Regions from separate parts of the Homo sapiens genome. Here region 1 is linked to region 2. Evidence: fine-mapped QTL for protein levels in blood plasma. Region 2 holds a variant in brackets. A gene starts in the other region. All regions are shown on their reverse strands. Region 1 holds the start of LECT2 (leukocyte cell derived chemotaxin 2). Region 2 holds the start of PLA2G2A (phospholipase A2 group IIA).

What was found. PIP is the posterior inclusion probability: the model's chance that the variant is causal. The UK Biobank Pharma Proteomics Project read protein levels with antibody pairs (Olink). The fine-mapping took linkage between variants from a reference panel, not from the people measured, so its PIPs are less certain.
Region 1: LECT2 starts here. The variant in region 2 is fine-mapped to the plasma level of the LECT2 protein (UK Biobank, PIP 0.90).

Annotation. Positions count from the first base shown.
Region 1 is chr5:135,952,846-135,957,377 of GRCh38, reverse strand. It overlaps LECT2 (leukocyte cell derived chemotaxin 2), which reads left to right and starts at 2,395. Exons shown (of 4, transcript NM_002302.3): 1 at 2,395-2,590; 2 at 4,411-4,507. The coding sequence starts at 2,545.
Region 2 is chr1:19,977,667-19,981,666 of GRCh38, reverse strand. PLA2G2A (phospholipase A2 group IIA) reads left to right here and starts at 2,049. Exons shown (of 5, transcript NM_001395463.1): 1 at 2,049-2,087; 2 at 2,788-2,933; 3 at 3,143-3,287; 4 at 3,546-3,652. The coding sequence starts at 2,894. RefSeq lists an enhancer at 2,906-3,405. The variant C/G (reference allele first, on the strand shown) is at 2,014.

The sequences.
Region 1 (4,532 bases), not on the chromosome of region 2:
TTTATTTATTTATTTTGAGACAGGGTCTCACTATCTTACCCAGGGTGGAGTGCAGTGGCATGATCGTAGCTCACTGTAACTTCAAACTCCTGGATTCAAATATTCCTTCTGCCTCAGCCTCCCAAGTAGCTAGGACTGCGTACACACACACCATGCCTGACTAAGTTTTAAAAATGTTTTGTAGGAATGGGGTTTTGCTATGTTGCCTAGGCTCGTCTCGATCTCCTGGCCTCAAGTGATCCTCCCGCACAGGCCTCACAAAGTGCTAGGATTACATGCATGAGCCACCACGCCTAGACTGCACTTTTATTTCTTGCCAGTTGTTGTCTCAATACAGTTAATAGAATGACTTATATTTCCTCTAATCATTTAAAGTATGACTTCTATTGTATACTACATGCTGTATATATTTGTGCCTATTTCTGAATCATCTGTTTTGTTTCACTAACCTATTCTTTCAGTACATTGACTCAGATCCTTGATGTATTCAATGCGTTGGCATTCTATATTGTATACATTAGATGCCTCCTTGAAAGGTTGTGTGTGAAGCAAAAACAATTAGGTGCATAATCTCATTGGCATCGTTTAGTTATTGTTGTGTGACATACCACACCAAAACTCAGTGGCTTCCAATGACAGCCAGTTAAGCCCATACATTCATAGGGTATACTAAGCTGGATTTTGTAGGGGCAACTGTGCTCTGCATGGCATCCATTCCCTTCCCAGGGCAGCAGGATCATCTGCCTCACGGCGATGTAGAAACACAGGAAGGAGTGTGCAAAGACTAAGGCCCCAGAAGACCCAGGCTTTCCCGACCCACTGCCACTTCTGCCTCATCTTAGTGGTCAAAGCTACACAGCTAAACCCAAAATCAAGGGTGAGGAAAGTTCCCTTTGCCCCCATGAAACATGGCAAAGGTGTGGATGCAGAGAGGGTGAAGAACTGGGGCTACAATCCCAATCTCCCACAGCTACTGGCACATAATTTAAATGGGGAAGCTTCCATAGAAAATTCCAGGTGCTCATCTAATATTAAGCTAAAAAGGAGCTGCTAACATATATTTGAAACACACTGAAAATTTAATTCCCCAGAAAAGTACAGGGTAACATAACATCCATGTGTCTATCTCCAATAATTAACAAATTAATATTTTAACATATTTGCTTCTGATTTTTTTCTTTTTTTAGAAATAAAATATTTTAGAGTTTATGTACTCTGTATATCCTTCCACGGTTTTATTTCTCTCACTATCCAGAAGTAATTAGTACCTTAAAGGTAGTCTGTGCATATTTTTATTATACATACAGCATTCATTAAGATTAATATACTTGTTTTCAGATTTTACATATTATAAATAGTATGATACTATATATATAATTCTAAAAATAGCTTTTTAATTCAACAGTATATCTAGAGATCTAGCTGTGTTAATACATGTAGATTGTCTTCATTTAAATTGTTATATTTTACTCTGTTGTATGACTGTATTATTCTGTTCTTGCATTGCTATAAAGAAATACCTGAGATTGGGTAATTTATAAAGAAAAGAGGTACAGAAAGCATGGTAGCTTCTTGGGACGTCTCAGGAAACTGAAAATCATGGCGGAAGGCAAAGGGCAAGCAGGCATGTCTTACACGGCTGAAGCAGGAGGAAGTGAGAACAGGGGAGGTGCTACACACTTTTAAACAACCGGATCTCACCATAACTCACTCACTCACTATCAGGACAACAGCACTAAGGGGATGATGCCAACCCATTCATGAGCACTCTAGCCCCATAATTCAATCACCTCTCACCAGGCCCCACCTCCAACACTGGGGATTACAATTGAACATGAGATTTGGGTGGGGACACAGATCCAAACCATATCAATGACTATATTATAATTAATCTTTTTTCCTTTATTGATGGATGCTTTTAATGGTGTTAACTTACCATTATCATAAACAAGAAAACATTTAAAAATCACATATTTAAGGTGAATACATGCAATTTTATTAAAATATTAAAGTTATTTGCAAATATTACACAGGTGAAATATAATTAAACTGAGAATTCAAAAACACCTAAGGGATATATTAAGGAATATGTTATGAAGGGCTACACATTATTAATGACCAATTTTCTTCTGAAATATGTGCTATCAAGGAAATAAAAGAAAGATCTACCAGCAGGCAGCACTAAATATTCCATCATTCGCACGAACATTCTCCTACAAGCCACAGCCCAGAAGACTGTCGATATGCACCTAGCCTTATCATTTTCTGTTAATATTTAGTCAGTATTTCCAATATAATTGGCTTCTTCTTCAGATCAAAGGCTTTTACATAGGCCCTACCTGCAAATCAAATAGCTATCCATGGAATATTAGAACTTGACTTGCTCCATCCTCTTAAACTTTTTGTGTCTCACACTAAAGAAATGAGAGATGCAGAATTCTAAGGCTAAATAGCTAGGAAGTATTCATTCAAACTTGAATATTCTTCAAAGAGAGTGTGGGGGCAACTCTAATCAGAGGAAGAAACTAAAGGAAGTAAAACCAGATGTTTTCCACCAAAGCCCTCCTTTTGGCTGGTCTGATTTCTACCGGTAAGTCGAAAGTGCAATTTTAGAATATTGATTAACTTTTAAAAACTGATTTCAGGGGAAGACTAAAAAGATTAAAAAGTCATTAATAGCATGATCACAACAAAGACTTGTGTATTTGGCTATTAAAAATGAAATAGGAATGACACATGGTCCTGAGGATGTTTTAAGTAATTTAAATGGAATGTTCCGGTTCTTTAATGAGGGAAACATAATAGTGGGTTGAGAAGACATTACAAAGCCTTTCAGTCTGAGTCTGGGTCTGGGACTTAACTAGAACAAAACTAGATAATAAAAAGTTGATATAAATATTTGATTCTGATTTTGATCAAAATCAAATTCTGATACAGATACTAATACAGAGACTGGTATGGATTAAGACAAAGGGATGGCTCCCTTAATACTCACCGAAGGAGGAAAAAGTGAATAAATTACTACACTGTCTGATATTTGCCTCAATTCCCAAGGATAAATATTAGTTGCCAAAGTGATGGGATTATATCTTGATCAAGGTGTTGATTTGGAGCTTGGCTCCAAGGCATAAAACTTTTGAAACCCACCTTTTAAAAGTATTTTAAAGAAGAGGCTTAATGGCCATATTCTGTAGGTTCTCTTCACAGGATAGGTATTAATGAAGAGTAAAATGTCTTTAAATAAAATCAATAGTCAAATTACCAGGCTCTCGCTTTTGCTTGTTTGTTTCAAAGTGCAAGGTTGAGTGTGCTCACTGTATCTCTCTGTGAATGTTAACACTGGAAATCCAGGACATTTAATTCCATTGAACATTTATTAAGTGCTTACTATAGTAAAGAAACAAATTGTGCCTGAAACAAAGTTTGCACCAAGTCTGCTGAGAAAGCAGCCCCTCCTCCACGTTTCATAATTTTTCATATAATTGGTTCTACTCCTTCTCCTACCTTCACCCCTAATCTCAGTCTAGGCTAAATTGGTTTGACATTTCAGATTATTTTTAAGAATCTCCCTCTTCCATGTTGGCAACTATGAGAGATTTATCTAGTGTTAAACAAACTTGGCTAGTACAGAGTTCGTTTCTCCTTTAATTCAAACATTTGCTTGGATTTGATTAGTGGAACTAACCATTTCAAAATTACAATTTCTAAAATTATTTTCTGAGCCATGCTATTTTATTATTTTTGCTTAATCTAAAAATAATGATCCCCATGGCAGATAATGAGCAAAGAAAAATAGAAAAGCACAACTTATACCATTTACTAATGGATCTGAAGCAAAGTATAATGATGGAGGCCAATGCTTATAAAGAAACACATTCAGCTGGGCGCAGTGGCTCACGCCTGTAATCCCTGCACTTTGGGAGGCTGAGGCAGGCAGATCACGAGGTCAAGAGATCAAGACCGTCCTGACCAACATGGTGAAACTCCGTCTCTACTAAAAATACAAAAATTAGCTGGGTGTGGTGGTGCGCACCTGTAGTCCCAGCTACTCAGGCGGCTGGGGAAGGAGAATCACTTGAACCCAGGAGATGGAGGTTGAAGTCAGCTGAGATCACGCCACTGTGCTCCAGCTTGGCAACAGAGTGAGACTCCGATCCAAAAAAAAAAAAAATTGTATTCACTGATACTCTAACGTCACAAAGCAGAATTCTGTGGCCAGGGAAAAAGCCAATTTTACATCTGAATCAGGAAATAAAATTCTGGAAGGACGATCTTCCCATAAATACATAAAGTCCAGGGAAAACTACAGTGAAAACAGAATTGTCAGGATCAACTGTGTGACTGATAAGGCAAATGGGGATAGGAAATGTCTGAGGCCAGGAGCTCTGCTCTCACTTTTCTCCTTTTTAGCACTGGCAGGGCCATGGGCTAATATATGTGCTGGCAAGTCTTCCAATGAGATCCGGACGTGTGACCGCCATGGCTGTGGACAGTACTCTGCTCAAAGGTATGAAGTTGCACAACCACCCACC
Region 2 (4,000 bases):
TTGGAGTATTTCTTTCAACTGAAGCCTGGACCAGGGCTATCCAGATATACAGAGAGGGAGGCGGTTCTGCCTATTGGAGGAACTACTGTTTCCGAAAGTGCAATGTTTAACAAAGGCAGTGGTCTACCCCGGGGGGTTGAGACCTCTGAACCCTGACGTGGCCATAAAGCCAACTGCTATAGGACTGGCAACCCAGAATAAGAAGAGTGAAGGAAGCCAACAGAGATCCCTGGAGGTTGTGTTAGTTTGCTTCGGCTTTGTATTAGGTACTTTGTGGCTTACACAACAGACATTTTATTGTCTAACAGTTCCAGTGGCAGAAATCAAAGGGCCCAACAGGGTTGATTCCTTCTGAGGGCTGTGAGGGAGAATCTGCTCCATCCCTCTCTCCTAGCTTCCAGTGTTTTCTGGTAATCTTTGCCATTCCTTGGCTTGTAGAAGCTTCACCCTGATCTCTGCCTTCATCTTTGTATGGCCTTCTCCCAGTGTGCCTGCCTGTCTCCAAATTTCCCATTTTTGTAATGACATCTGTCATCTTGGATTAGGGCCCATCCTAGCTGCCCTAGTGATCTCCTCTTAACTAATTATATCTGCAATGACCCTATTTTTAAATAAGATCACATTCTAAGGTACCGGGACTCCAACACAGGAACTGAGAGCAGGAAGGAGGACCACAGTCCAACCCCTTACACAGTCGAGCACTGGAGGTAAATGGTATTCTCGAGAGGAAAGCTGTTTGATGGCTCTTGGGATAGATTAGGTTATGCTCCAGCAACTGCCCATCTCAATTATCATCAGCTTAATACAACAAAAGTCTATTTCTCACTCACACTAAGACCCCTGTGAGCTGCAGGACTTTCTAGGACAACTGTCTTCCGTGCCATGATTCTTACACCCCAGATTGCTTTCATCTTCTGGTTCTACCAGTGGGGCAGGGAAGGGCTGGGGAGTTGCATCTCATAGTCCCCTTGCTGGAGAAACCTGGAAGTGACCCTTCATACCAGTGCTCATGTTTTACCAGTCAGCAGCAGGGCCCTAGGTCTCCATCCCTGCAAGGGGCTCTAGAGTGTAGGGAACAGATGGAATGTTCACAAGCACCACAGCCCCTGCCACAGTGACTTTTTTAGGACTGGTATCGCAGAGTGTTTACTTAAGGCGGTGGAAGCTAAATTCTTAGCATGTGCTGGAGAGCAATGAAAAAGATATTTACTTTATGAATTAAAGCTGGAGTCAGTGTCAGCCCGAAGGCTGAAGGAAAAAGAGCAACAGATCCAGGGAGCATTCACCTGCCCTGTCTCCAAACAGGTGAGGATGGGGAATAAAGTGAAGGCAGTGCTTTGGTGGGAACTTCAAGGATAGCCTCTGGCTTTTTCCAGGTTTAGAAGCTCATATGAGACAGGGGTGGAGGAAAAGAAGAAAGAAGAATAAGAAGAGAAAGTTGAGGCCCTGGCCCAAGTTAGTGGGAAGGGAAATCCACCCCCATTAAACTCTCTCCCTGGTGGACTGTGGGGTGCACACGTGAGGCCTGCACAGGTGCTGGAACATGGTAGAGGCCCAGGACATACTTCCTGTGAATGAATGATTGAGCGGCTGAATGAATGAGTACCACTAAAAGCCCTCTTTTCTATTCCCAAATGCCACATTGAGCAGAAGGGAGCAATCCTTGCTCAGCAATTGGTAGTCCCTTTGGGTGTGCAAATGAGTCCACAGCCTGCAACAGCAGACAGTCTCTGCCCCCCTTAGAGGCGATTGCAGGGAGGTGGCTGACCGTTGATCACACCCAGAGCTGGTTATGGGAATTTACTCCATGGAAAGACTGCAAAACTGCCTGAAATGTGTTTTGGCATCAGCTACTGACACGTAAGGTTTCCCAATCCTCAACTCTGTCCTGCCAGCTGATGAGGGGAAGGAAAGGGATTACCTAGGGGTATGGGCGACCAATCCTGAGTCCACCAACTGACCACGCCCATCCCCAGCCTTGTGCCTCACCTACCCCCAACCTCCCAGAGGGAG[C/G]AGCTATTTAAGGGGAGCAGGAGTGCAGAACAAACAAGACGGCCTGGGGATACAACTCTGGAGTCCTCTGAGAGGTAAAGAGCCAGCGAAGCTGATGTCCTGTCAAGAGCAGAATTCCTGCTCATTCGCTGCCTTTGAGAGTGGCTGTGTTGTGCATGCATGTGCATGATTTGATATGTATGAGAGGGTGTGTGTGCATGAGTGTGTTGAGTGAGTATGTGAGTGTAGTGTAAGAGAGGATGTTGGCACTATCAGGTAAGTACGAGAGTGTGTGTATGTGGGCATAGGTGTGTTAACATGTATGTGTTTGGGAACTTGTGTATGTGGAAGGGGTTAGAAGGCCTAGAAGAGAGAGGTTGATGCTTTCATTCTGGAGGAAAATACTGAGGCCGAGCCTCCATGGGTGCCTTGGAGACTCCAAGCCTTGAATCCAGTGTGGGGATATGCAAGCTATGTCTAGCGAGGGACACATCCTCTGACCTCAGGAACCTCCCAGGTAGTTGGGAGGAACCTGGTTCCAACCTCCCAAGAACTCTCAGTCTGATGAGGTACAGGGGAGGTCTCATTAGTGTATCATGGGGTTCTCCACAGGTCTGAGGGCCTGATGTGTGTGAAACCATTCTGCAGAGCTGGGAACGGGTCAGGAGGTGGTTGTGTGTGTGTGTGTGTGTGTGTGTGTGCATTGCTGGAGGGCACTCCTTGTGTGCTCTGAGTGTGACAGAGGAAGTCACCCTGGACTTAGGTTGGATGGGAGAGCATGTCTGTGTGTCTCAGAGCCACCAAGGAGGAGCAGGGGAGCGACGGCCGGGGCAGAAGTTGAGACCACCCAGCAGAGGAGCTAGGCCAGTCCATCTGCATTTGTCACCCAAGAACTCTTACCATGAAGACCCTCCTACTGTTGGCAGTGATCATGATCTTTGGTAAGAGCTGACCCTGACCTCTGAGCATGGGGGGACAGCCCCAGAAGGGAAGCACTCTTGTCCCTTAGTTTTCTCTCCCATTGCAGTGATCCTCTCTCAGGGGGAAAAAAGAAGCCATTTGGGAGGAAGGAGAGTAGCAGAGAGGGGCAGAGAGGGAGGGCGCAGAACCCCATGCCCCATCACCAGACAACTCCCAAATTTCCTTCCAGGCCTACTGCAGGCCCATGGGAATTTGGTGAATTTCCACAGAATGATCAAGTTGACGACAGGAAAGGAAGCCGCACTCAGTTATGGCTTCTACGGCTGCCACTGTGGCGTGGGTGGCAGAGGATCCCCCAAGGATGCAACGGATCGGTGAGGCCACCTATCCCTCCCTACCCTCCTAGACTCTGGCCCAGGCAGGGCTGGGAGCTGCAAAGACAGTGCCGGTTCCTGATGGGCGCAGAGGTCTCAGGATGGCCTGGCTGGAAAAGCAGCCGGCATGTTGGAACTTCTGCTCTAGACTGTTGCAAAGTCACTGGGTCTCTGCCCAGGGTCCAAGGGGGTGAGACCACAGGCACCAGGCCTCCTGGAGCTGTGGGACAAGAGCCCCAACAGGGTGTCTCCTCACAGCTGCTGTGTCACTCATGACTGTTGCTACAAACGTCTGGAGAAACGTGGATGTGGCACCAAATTTCTGAGCTACAAGTTTAGCAACTCGGGGAGCAGAATCACCTGTGGTAAGAGTCCTACCTCACCATCGAGTGGCCCTCATTTGTTTAGACAGTGCTGGGGACTGTGCTGGGCACCAAAGATAGACACAGAGGGACACAGTTCCTGCTTCAGGAAGCTCACGGTTGAGTGGGAAGCCAGGAAAGTGAAAATCCAATGTAGTAAAGACTCCAGTGGGAAGTAAACAAACAGATAAGGCATTAACACAGCCTGAGGCTTGAGGAAGGCTCCTGGAAGGGGTGACCCCTAAGCTGAGTCTGAAAGGCTGTGCAGAGAGTCAGGGAAGAGGAGGGAGCATTCCCAGAAGAGGACACAGCATGGTCAAAGGCACTAAAGGGCACTGTAAGCCATTCTGT